Regions from separate parts of the Homo sapiens genome. Here all the other regions are reported to be linked to region 2. Evidence: microRNA targets listed by miRTarBase, many of them from high-throughput screens and not tested one by one. Region 2 holds a microRNA gene; each other region holds the end of a gene's coding sequence.

Region 1 (5,151 bases), not on the chromosome of region 2:
ACTTGTCTGCTCTGTGGTGTTATGATCCCAAAGCTTCCAGGGACTACAAAAAGGGAGTTTAAAATTGAAACTGTGAAAGTAGAATCAGGCTGGATGATGGGAAGAGACATCACGTCCTGAAGGCATCACTGAGCCCTGAATCAAGTTATGCCTGAAGATGATGTATTCCTACTCTTCTAGTAAATGAGTCCATTCCTAATCTTTTAGTACATGAGTCAGTAAACGCCTTTCTTTTCCTGTAGACCAATTTGAGTCAGACTTTCTGTCACTCACAATTGAAAGTCCTAACTTCAAGGATCCTACACTTTCCTTCATAGCACTGGTCCCATGTGATGTTACTATTACTTCAGTGCCAACCTCTCTCAGTAGACTGTAGTCTGTATGCAAACAGCAGCAGTATCTCATTTGTTCAGAGCTGCATTTCCAATACCTAGAACAATTCTGACCCATTATTGGTACTTGATCATATTGAATTACTGAATAAATAACGCAAACCAAGTATTTTCTTAGCCATGTTCCCAAAGGTATGAATAAATTAACACTATGGAGCTATTTTTATGTGCATGAAAGTTGTTTCGAGATGAAAATACATACATACATATAGATGTATATATACAGTTGTGCACTTAAATTTCTATATAGTAATCTTCCACAGAATCAAAGATTGCCTGTGATCTCTGATATGAATGAAAGCAATGCCTCTTTGTTCTGTGAACTTGGAAAAACTATTTCTCTGAGTCTCTGTTTGCTTACCAGTGAAAAGTGCTTACCTCAAGGTAGATATTTGTAAACAGTAGTCTCTCGGTAAACAGAATTCTTACTAGTACAAGGAACTAACTAGATAACCAGAAGAGAAGAGAGAACAAATAGTCAGTTCAAAACCAAAGTGTTTGCATGGACAAAAGCAAAGGCCAGGGCTGCATAACACTGACATTTTTATTAGAATTCATTTGTAACAAATGGAACTTGTGTCAGCAAAGAACTGATTTTCATACAGACTTCTTTCGCCACCAATGTAACGAAGTAAGAAAATAAAAAGCACGCCTTTCATTCTGTAAAACATTTACGCGTACTACTAATTAGAGGTAATTGTATTTTTTAACAAGCCATTTTACAAGTTATTTGTTTTAATTTTTCAGTCTATGCATCCAAAACGAGAGCAAAGAACACAACTGTTATTATCTTTGTAAAGACACTCCAAGCTGGGATGGCAAAGCCACATAACGGATGGATAGAATGGATCTGTAGCCTTCTGATCTCTGCTGGAGTATCAGGGCACCCATAAACCCAAAAGGAACCAAAACCCAAAAAGAAAAACAAAAAGGGAATTAAAAATAAAAGGACTTAAAGCAAAACCGAAAATAAACAGGAAAGAAAAAAAATACGTGCATTACTGCAGACTTTTTTCCCTTCCTGTTTCTATGTTGTGTTATTTACATACACACAAATGAATTTCCGAAGCAGTTTCTTACAGATGGGTTCAAGTAATATCATTATTGGGTGTAGAATCAATAGGGCAGTGCATAGTACAAAGGTATAGAAAGTGCAAAGTTCCCTAGAGGCCCTTCCCTCCCCTGGCTGTCCTCGCCGTTTTCTAACCATGCAAATCATTTTTAAAAAAGAGCTAAAATAAAGTTCTGTACAAATCACTTTTTATATATTTTGATTTTTTTTACCATTGTAACTAATTACAAAATTATACATAACTACACGTACATAGGTAAATAATAGCACCGTACTGGTTATGATGATGAAAATAACTGGAAACTTGAAAGCTTGTGGTAATGGCAGATAAAGATGGTTCACCTGGGAAATTAAAACTTGAATGGTTGTACAGAAAAGCACAGAGTGGAATGCACATCAATGACAGTAAGGGAGTTAGTTCTAGGAACAGCTCCTGAACAGTAAGATTCCCGCAATAGTCTCCGCCTCGTTCGTCTATGGTATGCATCCCATTCATTTTCTTCTTCTGATTATTGTCATCTTTCCCTTTGCCAAATGGGCAGTTATTGTTTCAGGGAGAGAAGCTGCTCATTGGCCAATCATTCTGGTGTGCAGTGCTCCATCGGATTCTACATGTCCAACAAGGCATGTCTGGATGATGCAATGTCTGTCTGACCCCCTTTGTTTAACTAAAAGAAAATTATAGCACTGAGTAATCTGGCACTTGGATAAATCTCCAAAAAGATACAAACTAAAAGAAAATAATGATAACAGACCCACATAGTGCACATTCTTCTCTGGTTCTGATGTAGGTTAGAGAGTCTCATTCTGAGGTAGCCTTCTAGATACTTTTTTTTAGTATTATATATATTTTCTTTTTTTTCTTTTTCTTTGTTTTTTACAAAAGTGCTCAAATACAATGCTTGCAAATGTTTGGTCTCTTGGATTTCACTCTGCTAGCAATGGGAAAATGTGGAAAACAAAAATCCTTCCATGCAGAACATCCATGAAGCTAAAATTAAACCAAAGTAGTATACTCATACCAAAACTCTTTAAGAGTTCCTTGGGTATTTTGAGGATTATTTAAAATCATGTAATATGTGGCAAACTTATGCCATCATCCATGGCTTCCTATAGAAATTCTGTTGGAAGAATTGGGGGTAAGATACATATATATATATAGTTTATTTCCCCTTTTAGAAAAATCCTAATGGAATATCAAATATATTCCAAAGTTGCCAATGATATTTGTTACTAAAATAAGTTTGGTGCAGTTACTGCATGTTCCAGAGCGGATTTGGAAGGGAATATAAATAAAACAAGTAGCTTTTTCTGATGTTGATGATTGATTATAAAAGGAAGAAGGGCCCTGATTATCCAAGTGCTTTGGGCTGGTACAATCACTAACATCCCCGACTTGGCTGAAAACTAGGAATGCATATTATTCAAAGAGTTTTTGTACATGTGGTAAACAGATAATGCTTTAATAGAAAGTAACAGATACGAACAGTGAATGGAAATACGAACCAAAAGCTAAAAAGAAATGCTATTAAAATAGGCATCAATTATAAGGCACTCTAAATGCAAAACTAAAACCAAAACGAAACAAAGTACAGCACTTCCCAGGAATGCTGTATGCCACAAAATGTTTCTGACTGAACAGAGTAACATGAATTTGGCTTTGCCCCTGTTACATATCATAAATGCAAATTTCATAGCACATACTATAGACAATATACGATTGAATACACTTTTTTTAAACAACTCGATAGCTGATATATTACAACATTCTCCCCTCCTAAAGGGATATGCACTGACCTTTCCCACATGCACACCTCTTAGCTATTTAATAATAATTTTTATTGCACTAGAGTGTTAGAAATATTGAACTTTGTTGGAAGCCTGACTAACAAACAAACAAAACAATTTGTGGATGTGATTGATTGGTTAGGTGGGGGTAGATTAGGTAGGAAATCAGGGGGTGAGGTTTGACAATCAATCACTGATGTGCATTCCTCATTTCCCTTTAAAGAAATACCAATATGTCAAAAAATTAAGAATAAATGGAAAGAGATGTTTACAATAGCTTTTCTACGTTTAAAAAAACTAAATCATGGAAGAACTGACTGACTGATAACTGTATCTATTTTTTGTGTGGACACACTGTCTATATATACATAGACACCCTTATAAAATATGGATATATATGTATATATGTTAGCAGCAACTTTATACTTTGCGCCTCCCTGTTGATTCCAAAAACAAAACAAAATAATAATTATCTTTGATTATTTGAAGAGAATGGGTACTTTCTCACCAATCAAAACTGAAGTGTAAAATTAATATATCTGACGAGACTGATACTGTAGATTGAGTTTTGCACAAAAATGTGCAAATTTTCAAATGATTTGATATTTCTACAGCAAGATATTACAGATAACAGTTCTACAGCTTAAAAAAACCTACGATTTGGAAATAAAAAAATGAAGAGTTATGTAACTTTTTTAAAATTCACTTTATCGAATGATACATTTTGTTAAAAAAAAGTTTACACAGTTAGAAATGAAGCACAGGTCAGCAGTATCTTTACAATACTAAAAAACTAAATCAAGGACTTTCTTTTTAAACATTCCCTCCCCTTTCCCCCTAAAATGTTATTATGAGCAGTATGGTGGGAAGGGGCGATGTCAAAGCAGAGTCCGTTTCATTGTGAGAAGCCACACCAGCACATATCTTGTGCTGAACTGCAGCATTCTGGCAATTTCTCCTTGCACCTTTCAAGCAATCCTGAATAAGATGGTGGTTCTTTGCTGTGATTTCTTCTTCCCTTGATTTTGAATCCTTGAGGTATCTGTAAATAAAATCCTTCAGATGCCTCATCAGTCAGGATTCTCTTCATTATTTTTCAGGTTAGATTATTAAACTGTGAATTCTTGGTCCACCTGGAATAATTTGTTTTTAATTTGTTTTGTGTGTAATAGTCCCACTAAGTAGTTGTTAGCTAGAAGTTAAGAAGGACTTCTCAAGTGCCCTGTATGGCTCAGAAGAGACTCCATGGATATTGAAGGGCCTGTAGTAAAAATCCAGAATGGGTCAGGGGTTTCTACGTTGCATAGTGGTCAAAGCTGCCCAGGTACTCTAGTGCGGCACGATAGGAAAACTGATATTGATCCTGCAGGAGACAATGAATGGGGAGAAGCAAAAGAAGGGACCATGAGCATATTTTAATAGAAAAATAAAAATCAATATTGCATAACAAAATAACATCTATATAGGGGCAAAATCACTACTTTCGTCAACTGGTCTAATCCAATGACCAATTGTTTATAGTGAACAAAGAAAAAGCCACATGGGGTGTTGATTAACTTTGCCAATCAATTTGACTAAAACGATCTCCCAATTCCAAGCAGTGGCAGGTCGAGTGAACATTACCTTCCCAGACAAGTGTTTTCCAAGTAGTATCAAACCATTACCACCAATTGAACACATAAACTTCTTACATGCCTTATAAGCAGATAATGATGAAAATCATCCTTTACAATTATCTGCTTATTCAAGATAACTAATTCTCAGTTTAAATATTTAAGAGAGGCTGATACAGACACAAACTGTCCTGAGAAAAATCTGAATTTACTTATCTTCTGAACTACTGCCAACAGAATTTGAATTTTTAAAAAATTATGTTTGGACAGTAGAGCTTGCAGTGAG
Region 2 (5,151 bases):
GCTAAGATCTGGCCTCTTGAGCTTCCAGTACAATGTCTAAAGTAGAAAGCTTAAGAGACATTGGCCGAGTCATAGCCACTTGCAAAATCTTGCATCTTCTGGACTAAGAGATCATTTGTCTAATTGTTTTCATTGCTTTTGAGTTCTTTCCAAAGTTAATTCCCAACCTTAATTAGTTCTAGTTATGAGATCTCCAAGACTATATTCTTTGTAAACATATGCTACTTTATTAGTTAAGTCTAAATATTTATGAAATCTTTCAGTCTAGTAGTTTGGCTTCTCTGATAATTGTGGTCTTTATCTCTTTATAAAATGAGATACTGAAAGAGACACATTCAGCCTTGGTGCCTAGACCTGGCAGAAAGCAGAAAATGGTCTATTTTCCCTTATTTGTCTTCATTTTATTTTTAATCTGAGTCCATGTTGGCAGAGGAGGTTGGAACAGAATAAAACAGACAAATGACTGAGTGAATAGAAGGTAGGTGTATCAAAGATGAAGAAGGGGCCAAATTTGTAAGCATAAGTAAGGACCACATAACATTCTTCAACACTGATGGCTTTGTTGTATCCAAAAGTTTTTTTAAACTCTTTTCAAGGTAGCCCCAAATGACCTGTGCCTGCCCATGTATCTCCAGGGTGCTTTGGCTCTGCCTACAGACTACCTCACTCAACTAAGAACCTGAGTGGTTTGTCTGAACCTGAAACTATTGCCTCACAGATGTGTACAGAAGACCCACGGGTATGTTCACATCAGTAAAAAAAATGGGTCCATAGCTTAACTGCTGTGCTTCTTAGCTAAGGTCTTTGGATAAACTCCAAAGCAATAAATCATCACATATGCCAGGAAAGAAATTTTTTTGGAGTTGGAGTTATTATATGGCCCTAATATATACTACCACATAAGAATAACAATAATAATAATGGATACCCTACAACTTTTCCACTTACAATACACATGTCAGTAGTGATGTCTTGGAATGACCTATTATGTCATATGGGACAGCAGTGTTCTTTCTCAGAAATGTCAATGGAGATAAACAGATCAACTGAGGGTTAGCAGTGACAGGACATACAATTGTAGCAGAGCACGTTATTAGATGGGTGGACAGCATGTGAAGTCATAGAAAGTTAAGAAGTAGCGAAAACTATGAATAAGGATAAGGAAGTAGAGAAAATATATAAAGTGGTTTTAAACTTGAATGCCTTCATCTGAAAAAAAGTAAATGTACGGATTTGCAACTAAGTGGCAAAAATTAATACATGCCTTGCCAAAAACATTCAAATTCAAAATTTGATCTAAATATTAAGCTGGCCAAATAAAGCACAACTTCAGGCTGTATTTGGCTTCTTGGCCACCATTTTCTGAATCTTGGAAGAGATGGAAGAAAGAAGCTGGTCAGTGTCGAGAGAGCAGTGGCCACAGCAAGAGGACAGCAACGTCACAGAGAACAGACACAATGGGAGCAAGAACATGTCACCTGAAAAGGAGAGAGAGAGGTGGCCAGAGGAGACCTAGAGTGTTCTCTATCCCCTGGGACTTTGCTTTCTTCTTCCAATTCCAGTCCACGTGTGATCTTGCAATAAAGGTGTTTCTTTTAAAGGAGTCTGGATAAGAGTCACTTTTTCAGAGTCATCACCTACATGCCTTTGCTGATTTTCATAAAAACCCTACAGAGTAGAGGGCTGGAAATTGGGGTCCTGGGGCCTTGTCTAGTGCTGCTTTCAACACAACCCTAAGAATTATGTTCAGTGTAGCGTGACTGAGAAGCACACATAAATGTTTCCTCCTAATGCATTGCATTTCAAACCTATTTGATTCACAATGGCCATGCGGTCATTTCTTTTAAAATCCTTGGAGAAAAGTTGCTCCACAAAGAGGAATTAATGGTGGTCTTACCAGTGCTGGGAGAGTTATCTTCTCAAACTCATCCAATTCTGTCTGCAGAAAACCACACAGAGGATCTGAACACCTAAATATGTCATCACATGAAGAATATGAAGTAACTATGTAAAATAATACAGCCATACATTAGCCTAAATAGTGCTAATAAATTGTTAGGCTTAGCAGGAAATGGAAAATCACTAATGGAATAATGAAGAGTTTGTTTATTCCTGGAGCAGATGGCCATCATTCGTCATGTTCCCAGTTCCCCTGCTAAGAGCAGTAGCTAACAGGCTTGCTTGAGGTGATGAAGCAAGCCCAGGAAACCACTGCTTTCTAATTGCTAAAGGAAGTACAATTGTCACTCTAGGACCGAGAGAATTAACAGGGAGAATAATCCACATCAAGGGAACTTAGTAATGTGAACCATCAATGAAGTAGGACTGGGCAGAGATAAGAGACATTGCATTTGGAGGCGGTCAGATTTGTATCCTTGAATGGATTTTTGGAGCAGGAGTGGACACCTGACCCAAAGGAAATCAATCCATAGGCTAGCAATCAACCTATTTTTTGTTTTTGTAGCATTTGATCGTTATCGAGTTTTGCTGAATCCTACTTCTCTCTTTGTAAAACGGAAAAATAACAATACCTAACTCAAAGGGCTATTGCAAACACTGAATGAGATACAGCAAATGATGTGCCAGGCATGGTACCTATGACATGGGACATAGTAATGGTTAATTATTGCTATTGTTTAGCTAAAGCAGCAGTCAAATAGCCCTGAAACCAAGGTTCTATGTTTTTAAGGCCAAACTAGGAGGGTAAACTTTTGTAAACTTCTATTCACTATCAGAGTCAAAAAGAAGTACAGGTGGGTGGATCATAGTACCAGCTACAATTCACTTATTCATTCATTCGAAAACAAAATTTACTCTTGAATTAAAGTAGAGAAGAAAACTGATTGCTGCCAGAAATGATCAAAACCTGCTTTGTAGGATGTTACTTTACTTTGTAACAAAAATTAGAGAAATTAAATAATTTTTCTTTTTTGTTATGAAGAAGAAATATCAAAGTTACATGTTGGTGATATAAGGCAAGGTACACACCACACCCCAGTGATCTTTCTTTGGCATATAAATCAGTACACATAAGTGATGGTAATGCTGTCAGTGTAGCAAAATACGCTGTGGTAGACGCTGTGATGAAGCCCATCGTGAATGACACACACCTGTTCTCCAATTTCTCATCCTCACTTGCAGCAGCGTGACATCAAGAGGGATTATAGACTGAGAGACTGGGTAGAGGGTGTATTAGTCTGTTCTTGCTTTGCTATAAAGAACTGCCTGAGACTGGGTAATTTACAAAGAAAAGAGGTTTAATTGACTCACAGCTCCACAGGCTGTACAGGGAATATGACTGGGGAGGCTGCAGAAAACTTACAATCATGGCGAAAGGCGAAGGGAAAGCAGGCCAGAGCAGGAGGGAGAGGGCAAAAAGGGAGCTGTTACGCATTTCTAAACAACCAGATCTTGTGAGAACTTACTCATTATCACAAGAACAGCAGGGGGGATGTCGCCTCATGATCTAATCAACTCCCACCAGGACCCTCCTCCAACACTGGGGATCACAATTTGACATGAGATTTGGGTGGGGACACAAATCCAAACCAGATCAGAGGGCTTTGTTTTTTTTCGTCGTGATTTTTCAATTTTAAGGTTCTTGAAGGCAGAAATTGTGTCTTGTTCATGATCTCTTGGGCATATTCATAGGCCTCAACCACCAAATTAAAGATAGCTTAGAAATAAAAAATGGGCAGTTATTAATTGCAACAACATTCATATACAGGAGTCATTTTCTTTCTTTGAAGTGCTTTATGAACTTGAGCAAAGGCCAGTTTGAGGAGTAAGTTTCTTCAGCTTGTTCATGGTAAGTGATCGAAAGTTAGGCAGAGAAAGTGGCCTAGGCATGTGGCATTCCTCCACTTTGGCCAACTTATCTCTCAAAGTCAGACTCATCATGTGCTGTGCAATAATGGAGACAGGCGAATCAGAGAGGCTCTGACTTAGAGCACTGGAGGTGACTTCCTTTCCGCCAGCCTGTTTGTCTTCAGATTCCTTAGAGCAGTTGCTCCAACTCTCATCTTATGAACGGCTGGTTATCCTTGACACTGGGGGACTAAAGTCATCTTCTCCCTTCTCAGGGACACAAACAAAAATGACACTACCTTGAGATAATACCTAACACGAATTATTCCACCACATCATATCTTGGGGCTCAGATACTGTATTCTTTCCTAGTCTAACACATGCAGCAAGAATACATGGCAACTATAATAAATGCTTCTAATTAACAAATAAAAATACATCTGCGCCAAGTGAGAGATATAGCTGCTTAAGAACCCTCCTTGGCTGCTGGGCTTGCCTATGATGGATCAAAGCTTTTAAACACATCATAATGACAAAAGGGATGGGATTTTCAGACCCTTTCATCCACGGAATGGCTTTTGGGCTTACTCTGCAGAAAGATTTTTTTCCCTACTTGTAAGAAATGAGTTTAAGCCAGAATCAAATTTTGATACTTTAAAAAAAAAAAATTCAGCCAGTACAATTGATAGCACCAGTTAAAGGAATGAAACACTTTTGCATGGAAACAATGATTCATGAACTGCTCTTGCCTACAGGAGATGAAACCATTTGGGCTTTCCTCAGCAATGCTTATATTACTGGCAACATTTAAAAAAACTTCATTATATAGAGAAAATTCCAGCCTTCAATTTTTCTTCTTGAGAGGGTTCAGTGGTTGCTTTGGTATATGTGTGTCTCTTGGTGAGTGTGTGTGTGCATGTGGGCACACACATGAGTGTGTTTCATAAAATTAGATTCTAGCAAAGGGAAAGCGCATTTATGCAAAAGCAATTCATCAACCACTTCTGTGGTCAGAATTCACCGAGGTAATTTAGATACTTTAATGGCAAGGTAGTTTAGGTAGGTAGGAGGCAATGTCCCCTCCCCTATCTAACAGCTATGGTAATAGAAAATGTGTGCTCTAAATGAATCTTTTCAGGAAAGTAATTCTCATTTTAATTATTTATCCACTACCAAATATAAAATATAATTACATAGCCAATGTCCATGGGAACAAAATCCACAGTGCAGTATAGAGTATGAGAGCTTTCTGCTTTTAGAAATTTTCCATTAAAAAAATAAGATTAGCCAAATGTAGCTTTTATAATCTGATTTTCATAATATTAGTGTTTAGCAAAAGCCAAC
Region 3 (5,151 bases), not on the chromosome of region 2:
CTATAGAAGCTGAAGTAGGTGGAATTAAAACTATCTTCTACTCTGCTGTTAAAGAAAAGCATTGCATCGAAAACTCTAAAAGGACTCATCACTTTCTTGGGATTGAGATACGTAATCCTATTAGAATTCAGTCCAGATAATACAAAAGCAACTGAAGAACTTAAGTGTAGATTTCTGTGCCCCACCTATTGAAACAGAATCTATGGGGATGAGCATTAGTATGAGATCCTGTAGGTGATTTGAAGGAGGTGTTTTTCCCTATAAAGAGGTAATCTTTTTACTTTTAATCTATTTACTGTAGACAGTAACTGTGAAAAAAAAATCATTTTGGATACCTCAAACCAATTAATAGTGGACTTAGTTTATTTTATTCTGGCTTAGTTGAGAATACTTTTGAATTTCTGTTGAGTATATGAAAATCATATTAAAATGATTCAAAACATTTTCTTTCCACAGAACCACATATTCTTCTCTTTAGACGACCTCTTCCAAAAGATCAACAAAAATGAAGTTTATCTGGGGATCGTCAAATCTTTTTCAAATTTAATGTATATGTGTATATAAGGTAGTATTCAGTGAATACTTGAGAAATGTACAAATCTTTCATCCATACCTGTGCATGAGCTGTATTCTTCACAGCAACAGAGCTCAGTTAAATGCAACTGCAAGTAGGTTACTGTAAGATGTTTAAGATAAAAGTTCTTCCAGTCAGTTTTTCTCTTAAGTGCCTGTTTGAGTTTACTGAAACAGTTTACTTTTGTTCAATAAAGTTTGTATGTTGCATTTATCACTGTTTCAAGTTTTTGAGGTATATTTTCTTAATTTGTGACTATTGAAATTTGTGACTATTGAAATTGATTTCAGTGTTATAGTTTTAGCTCTGAGGAAGTTAACTTACCTTAAAGATGATGTTAAATGAGTTTAAAATAGTGCGGTATGATCTGGATACCATTTAATTCACTTAATGAAGAAATTAATTACCAGGGATATGTTTAAACTAAAGCCAAAGTAGATTTTACCTCTTGAATTCCTGGAGAATTGTCTAGAACAGGAAAGCCCAAATTAATACTATCTGGGCTACTTCACTGGCCACTGGTGGTCTTGGGAGAAACCTCTTTTTTATCCTCTTCTACATTTCCAAAGTAGGGATAATGTTTCCTATAAAGTATCACCACATTTTTAAAAGTTCAAAAACACTGTAAAACACCTTTGCCTTTTTAGCTGCTAGGAAAGTGTTTTGGAGTTATTCTAATTAATTGCTATGCTATAGAAACATCTTAAATGAGCAGCCAGCATACATCAGGTCCATTGGTTAAGAAAGGGTGTCTTTACACATGAGGGCAATAAATTTTGAAGGTTGTGATTAGCAGCATCCTAAAATCTACTGCCACTACCATAGGTTGTGTCCAGGGTAACCAACAGAAACATGACAAAATCAAGTAAACTTCATTACACTTCCGGGTAGACCCAATAGTGCTGAAAGGAAGGCGACAGCTACCCCTAAACTTCCAGCATAAATTCCTGCCAGACCAGACCCTAAGGATCACTTCTGCTAGAGGCTGTGTAGTGAACTGAGACCCACCAGGACAGAAATCTGAAAAAACTGGAGCTGCACCTGCCTTACTTGCTTGAAATACTTCGTATTCAATGGTAGAGTTAACGTCTGTGCAAGGGACAGAGGAAACCTACAATTTGCCTCAACCTAATCCCCATTCCTCAAATAGCCTGTTTTGCTGACATTTTCTGTTCCTTAAATCCACTTGCACTTTCCTCCAAGCCTTTGAGTGAGAGGAAAGTTCCTCCTCCATCTATTGAAATCCACTCTGCATTCTTCCCTGTACTTTTGGTCAACCTCCTATCCCTGCCGCACTTTATACATTTCTCTCAATATTTAACGAATTTGCTCTGTGTAGAACTTTTTTTTTCTCGTGAAAATTATACTATTCCATCTCTTGACCATATCTTAGCACTTTTTTTAATTTTTGAAAGAAACCGAGCGATTTTTAAATTATTTTCTGTGGCTACTTCCAAACTTAAGGTTTCTGGAAATTTAGGATACCATCAAGAGTCTTGTAGGCTTTCCAGGTTTGTAGGACCTACAGGGTATGCAATTCCTGTAAGTCACCAATCTTGGGGAAATTTTAGGGAAATGCAGTGGCGGGGGTGAGAGTAATCTCGGCCTCCTCAGTTTCCTTATTAGTAAATCTTTCTCTTCAGGTGACTGCTCAAAGGTCACCTCAGCGAGAGGCCTTTCCAGACTACCCCATCCCGTCCTAACGCTAGACTCGTGAGGCCCAGGGGAGAAAAGTAAATCACGGCCTAACTCTTGTTTATAGTCGCTACTGCCTTGGTGGAGACTATCTCCGATATCCCAGCACTAAAAGGCAGATCCAAGACTCCCGCAAGCTACGGTGGGTCCCCAGCCCAGAGGACTCCTGGGGGTCCCCATTTTCCGCAAGCGCCCCACTGCCTCCACGTGCTGCCCGCGCAGGTCCAGTGCCGCCGCCGCGTACTTCCGGCCGGAAGAAAGGGCGGGCTCTGTCGCTTTGCTGTGACGCACTTCCTGGCGTCGCCTGCGGGGGCGGAAACGCTTTGTCTGTCCGGCAAGCCGACGGCCCGCTGCTGGCCTCCGTGACGCGGCCTCCTCCGCGCCTCGCGGCATGGCGTCGGAGGGGCCGCGGGAGCCCGAAAGCGAGGTAAGGGCCGACGGGGGCTCTCTCGGCAGCCTCAGTCCGTCCGCCTGCCTCGCACTGGGGGCTCGGCCGGGCGGTGACGGGGCTGGTCCAGCGGGCGTGGGTCGGATGCTGGTGACGGCACGGGAGCGCCCTACCGGGTGGCCGCGATCTTCGCGCCCCGCCTCGGGTCCGCCTTGGGGTGGCGGTCAGCGGCTACAGACCCCGCCCACAGTTAGCGCCGCGTCTGTGGTGCGATGTCACCCAGCGCAGTGACTGCGGCCCAGCCCGGCGCTCCCCGCAGTCGGGGCGGGGGGACTCTGGCGAGCTTCCCGCGCTCTTGGGAACGGATAGATTGTTTTAAAGGATCCTGCGTTTTTCTGAACGTCATTCTCCGCTCTACGTACTCAGCATTACCACTAGATGGAGCCCTGGCGATCGCTTGCATCATTTTTAGACCCATAAAATTCTCGGTGAAAGTAAATCTCTTACTACGTCACTAAAAACTAAAGAAAGAAATCTTAGTGAATTGAAATTTCAAAGGCTCGTGGTGATAATATTTTCTAGCAAAGCAAGGTTTGGTATTTCAATAAAGCAAGACTTAGTGGTTCATGAGTAAAATGCATATGCTTTTGTGCAACTTTTTCAAGAAAATGTAATGGAAATAAACGTCTGCAGTGTGTTTTGGGTGCTGTAGTTAAACAGTCCACGTGTATTTGACTGCAGTAGTTGTACTGTGTGCAGTTCTATTATTTCTAAGTGAATCTGTGGTAAAAACACCCTTATTCCAAGATCTAAACTATATAATCTGTGTTGTTTTATTTCCACTTGAATTCGTTGTCATTTTTCACTTTTAATGTTTGAACTACTGCCTTTTCTACAAAAAAAAAAGCATTGGGGAGAAATCGTTAGCAAGCAGGTTCTTGTCTTTACGAGGCAGAAGTTTTTAAACAACATCGGGAACATTTCTGGGGCTATTAGGAACACCTCTTGGGTCTTTTTGTTTGTTTATATTTGCTTGATCTCTGAATGTTTGTGGCCAAAACCTCATATTTTTCCTCAGGGCATCAAGTTATCAGCAGATGTCAAACCATTTGTCCCCAGATTTGCCGGGCTCAATGTGGCATGGTTAGAGTCCTCAGAAGCATGTGTCTTCCCCAGCTCTGCAGCCACATACTATCCGTTTGTTCAGGAACCACCAGTGACAGAGTATGTATCTTTCTAAAAGTCTTACCTAGGGGCTTACATTTTGGATTTAATGGTGATTAGACTTTCAAATACTCAGCAGTTACTGCACTAAAGTTCTGCAGATGATGAGAGAATGCTCTTCAACCAAGAAGAGTCTGAGCCAGTAGCACAACTTAACTGTATCCTGTGCCAAAAACAGAAGCTTTAACTCCCCTTTTTTTTCTTCATACTCATTGTTATTTTCGGCAAAGAAATAGTAGAGACTGCATTGCATTTGTTAATAAGAAATGCAGTTTCAGGCCAGGCGCTGTGGCTCACGCCTGTAATCCCAGCACTTTGGGAGGCCGAGGTGGGTGGATCACCTGAGGTCAGGAGTTCAAGACCAGTGTGACCAACATGGTGAAACTCCGTCTCCACAAAAATACAAAAATTAATCAGGTATGGTGGCGGACACCTGTAATCCCAGGTATTCGGGAGACTGGGGCAGCAGAATCCTTTGAACCTGGGAGGCAGAGGTTGCAGTGGGCCAAGATAGCACCACTACACTCAAGCCTGGCTGACAGAGTGAGACTCTGTCTCAAAAAAAAAAAAAAAAAAAAAAAAATCCCGTTTCAAGGTTCATTTGTTCATATGGTTTAAAAATATATCATATATCTAATGGGAGATGAAATGTGGAGGGAAGGGCAAAGAAAGGACCAAATAAACGTACTCCTCCTTTTTAAGGTTAACATTTTAAAATCTTGTTGAGCGAAGGGGAGGGGACTAGCAACCATAGCTGCCTCTGTGTGGATAATTTTTTGGAAATTGTTGACTTTTGCTTTCCACCTTTTTACTTTATATCTGTTAATATGGAGATGAATTTTACACATTTCAGGCTTAAGTTCTTCTAAATTTGAGTTGAAAGAAGGCTTACATTTTTCCTTACATTTTCTTTTTCCTTCTCAGGATTCATTCTCTAGGTTTACAAAATGGCTTCCTCTTGCAGCTGAATTTAGACAAAAAAAGTATTAATCTTTCACATAATTGTGTAGATTTATTTGTAGATCTGTTTTTAAGATTTGCATCAGGTGTAGTTCTAATCTAAGAATCCTAATGCTTTTTTCTTCTTTGATATGATTCTAACTTGTTTCCTTTTATTTGTGCCTGCATGATGTAATTGAAAATAGTTTGTACTGTATATAAATTCTAGAATTATATTTGCAAGAATGAGAATTGTAATGAATAAGAAAATGATTGAGTTGTCTTTTGTGTTTAGGAAATACTGAAAGTTGTATTTTTTTGACGAAAGTTG
Region 4 (5,139 bases), not on the chromosome of region 2:
CAGCTCGGGCCTGGGAGCGAGGCAACCCTTATGTGGCTGTCCTGACCCCTCTCCTCTCTCCACCCAGGGTCCTGAGTTTGTGCGCAAACATATCTTCAACAAGCATGCAGAGAAAATTGAGGAAGTGAAAAAGGAAGTCGCGTTTTTTAACAACTTCCTCACTGATGCTAAGCGCCCAGCTCTGCCTGAGATCAAGCCAGCCCAGCCACCTGGCCCCGCCCAGAGTAAGATACGATCCATGAAGGTCGCATGTGCCCTCTTCCTTGACTACCCAGGGACTCCTGTTTCTCTTTAACGTGTCACCCCGAGAAGTTTCTGCCCCATCCTCAGGCCATAGCCCTAGAAGTCAATTGTACCCGTATCCCCCTCCCCGCCCCCGCAGTAATTCATGTCCCTGTCCGTGTTGTACTCCCCCCAGGTTTGACCCCAGGACTCCCCTACCCACACCAGACTCCCCAGGGCCTGATGCCCTATGGTCAGCCCCGGCCCCCGATCTTGGGCTATGGAGGTAAGTACAGGAGGGAGATGAAGGGGCTTGGTGAGTGTGTGGCTTTGGGAGAAGAAAACAGAGGATGGAATTGAGGACATAGTTTTGCAACTCAACACTGATCTCTGTCATAGCTGGTGCTGTCCGCCCTGCAGTCCCCACAGGAGGCCCTCCATACCCCCATGCCCCGTATGGTGCTGGTCGAGGGAACTATGATGCCTTCCGAGGCCAGGGAGGTTATCCTGGGAAACCTCGCAACAGGTGAGGAGGGCAGACGCCCAAGCTTTGTTGCCGCCTGCAGACTCCCTTTTGGGAGCCCTCAGCTCTCATCCTGTACCTCTCACCTCACAGGATGGTTCGTGGAGACCCAAGGGCCATTGTGGAATATCGGGACCTGGATGCCCCAGACGATGTTGATTTCTTTTGAGCCGTCCCCCGTTCCTCAGTCCTGTATCATCCATACTTGTACTACCTTGTCCTATGAAGCTCTGAGAATTTTTTGTACGATCAGCCTTACTGCTAATAAAAGCACTTCCACAGGGCTCCTGACTCTCGTGTGTTACATAACTCCTCCATCCTTCCAGAGTAACTCCTGAGGTGTTGCTCAGCCCTGCCACTTTTATTATTGATGTCAAAAGCGCCAGGCTTTGCAGGGACACCAGTGGGAGGTACATAGGTGCGTGTCTGGGACCCGAGAATCTCAGTTCTGTAACTTCGTCCTCAGTCCAAGGTGCGCTGCTGCTGTTGGGAGCTAAGGCTGGTCAAGCACAGGTTGTAGAAGGAGTTGGGGTCAAAGGCTGCACTCACCTCTTGCCAGCCCACCCACCCAGCAGCCTGTAGTTCACTGGGGCTTTTTGGAGTGCCCCAGTAGTGAGGGTCCAATACCAGGACATAGGCTTCCGTGCCTGACCCTACGCAGACTCCCAGCAAGGCCTTGGACCTGGCATCTGCGTCCCCCCCAACCATGACTGGGCCCCCACCCCCTGCGAAGTGCGAGTAAAGCCTCTCCAGCTCCCCGTGCAGCCCCACTCCCCGGGGTACGTGGCAGAGGCGTCCCTGGGGCCCTCCGAAGTGAGCGAGGCAGAGGCTGGCCTCCACGCAGCCGATCCAGTCCCGGGAGCCCCGGAAGCCGGGGGGCTTGTCGCCCATGTCCTCCAGGGCCGCCTGTACGGCGGCCAGTCCAGGTACGCCCGCGGGCTGGCCCTCTGGCCACGAGCACAGCGTCTGCAGAGTGCGGTAGCCGCAGCCCCAGCCGCGGTCGTCCAGGCCGTCGCAGCCGTAGTGGTAGTAGAGGTAGTGGCCCGAGAGCAGCGCCAGGCGGACAGGGCCGCGGCTCGGCGGGGACAGGCCCACGTGGACGTCCCTCAGCGGCTCCAGGGCGGTGGGCGGGAGCGGAGGTCCCAGGCCAGGCACAGCGTCCTCCTAGCGGCGCGGAGCGACCTCAGGCTCCAACACTTCCTTTCGGCTCCGGGTCTTGGGCCAGCTGCCGCAGGACCGGCGCGCAGACTGGGGACGCGCTCCCCGGGCCTCGTTGATCACCGCAGGCCGCAATAGGCAGCCACCGACCGGCACCGACCGAGGAGCTCCCACAATGCTCCGCCGCGCCCCGCCCCGCCCCGCCCCTCCCCTCCCCTCCCCTCCCCTCCCCTCCCCTCTCCTCCCCTCCGCCGTGCCAGCTAGCCTGCCTGCGGGCCTCATTACGCAGGCGCGAGCTCCGCCCGGCAGGGCAGGGCTAGGGGTTGGCCTTTGCCTTGCGCCCGCCTCGGAGCTCGCCTGTTTCTTGCCCTCCAGCCCCGCTCCTGCATAGACTCGGCCCCCGTGATTCCGGCGTTCTGCCTCTACCCCTGGCTCCCTAGTCGCGCACACTCCCGTGGCTGTAACAGTTTATTGGCAGCCCAGAGGGGCGAAGGCACCGCGGGGGAGGGAGCTCAGCCTGAGACATGCAGAGGACCGGGAGCCCCGGGGGACGTCGGGGTGGGGTGGGGATGGGCAGAGTCTGGGGCTCGTCTGTGTTATAGCCCAGCCCTGAAATAAATAGTATATACAGCTAGGGGGCCGGGCGGAGCGGAGGACATGGGGGTCCCGCCGGGGTCACAGGTCTGAGCAGCGATCCTGCTTGCTGTAGTGGTCGAACTGGTTCTTCCAGTGCACCATGTAGGAGCTCCAGCGGTGGAACTCGGCCTTCCACTGGCGCTCCGCCTCGTCGAGCGTGTCTGCGGCCAGGGCGCCCAGCGAGGCGGGAGGGGAGGACGGCACGAGGAAGGTCGGGGATCGGACATTTGGGCGGGTTGAAGGGGGGGTATGAGTGCAGGGAGGACGCACGGAGAAATGCAGGCGACCACGTGGGACGGTGGCAAGAGGATCAGGAGAATGTGCGAAAGACGAGAGGGAGGATGAGGGCAGAGGCGGGGCCGGAGAAGGACAGCAGGAAGGAGAGAGGAGGAGAAAAGAATGACCGGAAGACGGGAACAGAGGGGACAGGAGGGGGAGGTTGGGGGAAAAAGAAGAGACAGAAATGGTTGACCGTTATAGCCCCAATGGGGGGTGCTACCCCGTCCGGGGCCTCCCACTTCCCCCCAATGTCAGGCTCAGGTTCCAAAAGATAATTTTATAAAAGAATACTGGCTTTTCCATTTCCATTCAAACAACAAAGGCGTGGGGGTCCCTGAGAAGGGTGGGAGGCACGGCCCCCTCCTCCTGCCCTGTCCAGTGTGAGTCTCTCGGTTTGAGGAGGAAGGGAGCACTAGGTCTGAGATCCCTGAGTGGGGCCCTTCCCCACGGTCCGACCACTCATTAGAGGAGGGGCCCCTGTGGCCGTAGGGGAAGAGGCCGTGTTCACAGCCGCCGGAGGTGGGAGAGGAAGAGGAGGAGAAGCTGGTGGAGGAGGAGGAGGGGCAGGGGGAGGCCGGGCCTCGGAGCAGCCTCCCCATGGGTGAAGCCTGGGCAGGTGCTGGGAGCCTCCGAGGCTAGGGGGAGAAGAGAGGGGTTACACCTGGCGGGCTCCCACTCCCCTCCTCCCAGCCGCTGCCCGCTGGCCCCTGCATACCGGTGGCGCTGAGCAATTTGGGGAGGAAGCGGTTCCAGAAGGCGCAGGCCTGGGCGCGCAGCCCCCGCCGCACCTCCAGCGGCCGCAGGTCCAGACTAACGTACTGCTGAGCCCCCGCCGTGTACGGGGGCCATTGTGGGGCCTTGGGGTCTCGGGGCTCATTGGGATCCCTGCGGAAGGAAGGGAAGGCTCAGTCCAGACGGGCAGTGGGAGGAGGTGGCCCCCAACTCCACGGGATCCCGGACTCTTCAGCTCAGCGGAGAGCCCCAGAGAACCCGTCCCCTCCCTCCCACCACTTTCTCCAATGTGCGCGGTCATTGGGGTCTTCCCTTCCTCAAGCGCTCCGTCTCCTTCCGTTTCCCTCAGCTTTTCTGTTCCATCTTTGTTTCTCTCACTAAAAAAATGGCTAGGATGTCTTGAGACTTTCCTAAATAACCAGGACGGGTCCTATGTCTACAAACATCACATTTTTTAACAACACCCATCCAATGCTAGATTTCATTGTCCTCTTCTCGATCCAGGTAAACTGGTGTGTGTGTGAGAGAATGTGTCACTGCTAGTGAATCATCACTGGTTTGACTTAATCCAGCTCCAACTCCTTTGTCTTGGTCTCCCTTTTTTTTTTTTTTTTTTTTTTCCAGAGATAGGGCCACTCAGGCTGGAGTGCAGTGGTGCCATCATAGCTCACTGCAGCCTCAACCTCCCAGGCTCAAGCAATCCTCCTGCCTCACCTTCCCAAGTAGCTGGGACTAGAGGCACGAGCCACCGTGCCTGGCTAAGTTTTGTATTTTTTTTCTTTTTAAGAGTCGGGGTCTTGTTATGTTGTCCAGTCTGGTCTCAAACTCCTGGCCTCAGGGGATCCTCCCACCTTGGCCTCCCAAAGGGCTGGAATTACAGGGGTGAGCCACTGTGCCCCGCCCCCTCCATGTCTACCTCGTCTCCTCCTCACTTTCCTTTGCCTCTGTCTCTGCAAGACCCCCTCTGCCTTCTCTGTCTCCTTTCTTTTTCTCTCCCCTTTTATCTACTTTGTGAGCATATCCCTCTCTGGCTGTTCTATCCTGCCCCTGTCCCACCCGTCCTTTCTGTCTCCGTGTGTCTGCCTTTGTGTGTCCTCCCGCCCCCGACTCCTGTCCTCCCCAGCCTTCTCTCCCTCTGCACTGCTGACCCTGTGCGGGCAAAGTTGGCCCAGTATCGCATCAGTCGCTGGGCGAAGATTTTCTCCTCTGCCGTGTAGTTTCGAGAGGGGTCCAGGGGGATCCCAAAGATGAACTCGATCTCGTAGCCGTGGGGCACCCCCATCCACAGGGGCCAGGAGAGCGTGGAAGCACGGTGTTCAAAGACGTAGGCGTAGACCCGGGCACCCTGGGCAGCCAGTCGCCCAGCCAGCTGGGCCACGGGGCACACGACATTGTGGTCGCCCACCACATCGCTCAGGGCCTCCCTCAGGCGTGCCGGGTCCTCGGGATGCAGCCAGTCTGTGTAATGCAGGACCACAGCCTCGGCTGCCAGGTCACTTACCTGGGGAACCCCGACCCGCACCCCGGCCAGGAACTCGGCCCGGCTGATGAGAGACTCGTTGTCTTTGCTGAAGCCTGGGGCCCCGTAA

The links. The annotated mature microRNA hsa-miR-1246 reads AAUGGAUUUUUGGAGCAGG and lies in region 2 at 2,379-2,397, shown strand. An mRNA with a match to its seed (bases 2 to 7 or 8) in the 3' UTR can be bound and repressed. Matches are read on the target gene's strand: a 7mer-m8 pairs with bases 2 to 8, a 7mer-A1 pairs with bases 2 to 7 and ends in A, and an 8mer does both.
Region 1: the mRNA of PTPRD is a reported target of hsa-miR-1246. Seed matches in the 3' UTR shown: 7mer-A1 at 3,639-3,645.
Region 3: the mRNA of CKS2 is a reported target of hsa-miR-1246. Seed matches in the 3' UTR shown: 7mer-A1 at 606-612.
Region 4: miRTarBase lists SRRT as a target of hsa-miR-1246. Seed matches in the 3' UTR shown: 7mer-A1 at 943-949.

The regions. Positions count from the first base shown.
Region 1 is chr9:8,313,328-8,318,478 of GRCh38, forward strand. PTPRD (protein tyrosine phosphatase receptor type D) reads right to left here. Exons shown (of 46, transcript NM_002839.4): 46 at 919-4,615. The coding sequence ends at 4,547. Among named protein-coding and RNA genes, the nearest start is that of DMAC1, 520 kb to the left of the region's middle.
Region 2 is chr2:176,598,270-176,603,420 of GRCh38, reverse strand. MIR1246 (microRNA 1246) reads left to right here and starts at 2,369; the gene lies at 2,369-2,441.
Region 3 is chr9:89,315,917-89,321,067 of GRCh38, forward strand. CKS2 (CDC28 protein kinase regulatory subunit 2) reads left to right here. Exons shown (of 3, transcript NM_001827.3): 3 at 457-787. The coding sequence ends at 509. It overlaps SECISBP2 (SECIS binding protein 2), which reads left to right and starts at 2,584. Exons shown (of 17, transcript NM_024077.5): 1 at 2,584-2,696; 2 at 3,736-3,881. The coding sequence starts at 2,661. RefSeq lists an enhancer at 2,234-2,453 and a silencer at 2,624-2,943.
Region 4 is chr7:100,887,636-100,892,774 of GRCh38, forward strand. It overlaps SRRT (serrate, RNA effector molecule), which reads left to right. Exons shown (of 20, transcript NM_015908.6): 17 at 68-224; 18 at 407-508; 19 at 622-748; 20 at 839-1,029. The coding sequence ends at 914. UFSP1 (UFM1 specific peptidase 1) reads right to left here and starts at 2,080. Exons shown (of 1, transcript NM_001430944.2): 1 at 1,086-2,080. The coding sequence starts at 1,864. The coding sequence ends at 1,208. ACHE (acetylcholinesterase (Yt blood group)) reads right to left here. Exons shown (of 5, transcript NM_000665.5): 3 at 4,699-5,139; 4 at 3,534-3,703; 5 at 2,359-2,700. The coding sequence ends at 2,579. RefSeq lists silencers at 2,104-2,153, 3,245-3,402, 3,474-3,523 and enhancers at 2,573-3,306, 3,024-3,083, 3,307-4,039, 4,320-5,059, 5,060-5,139.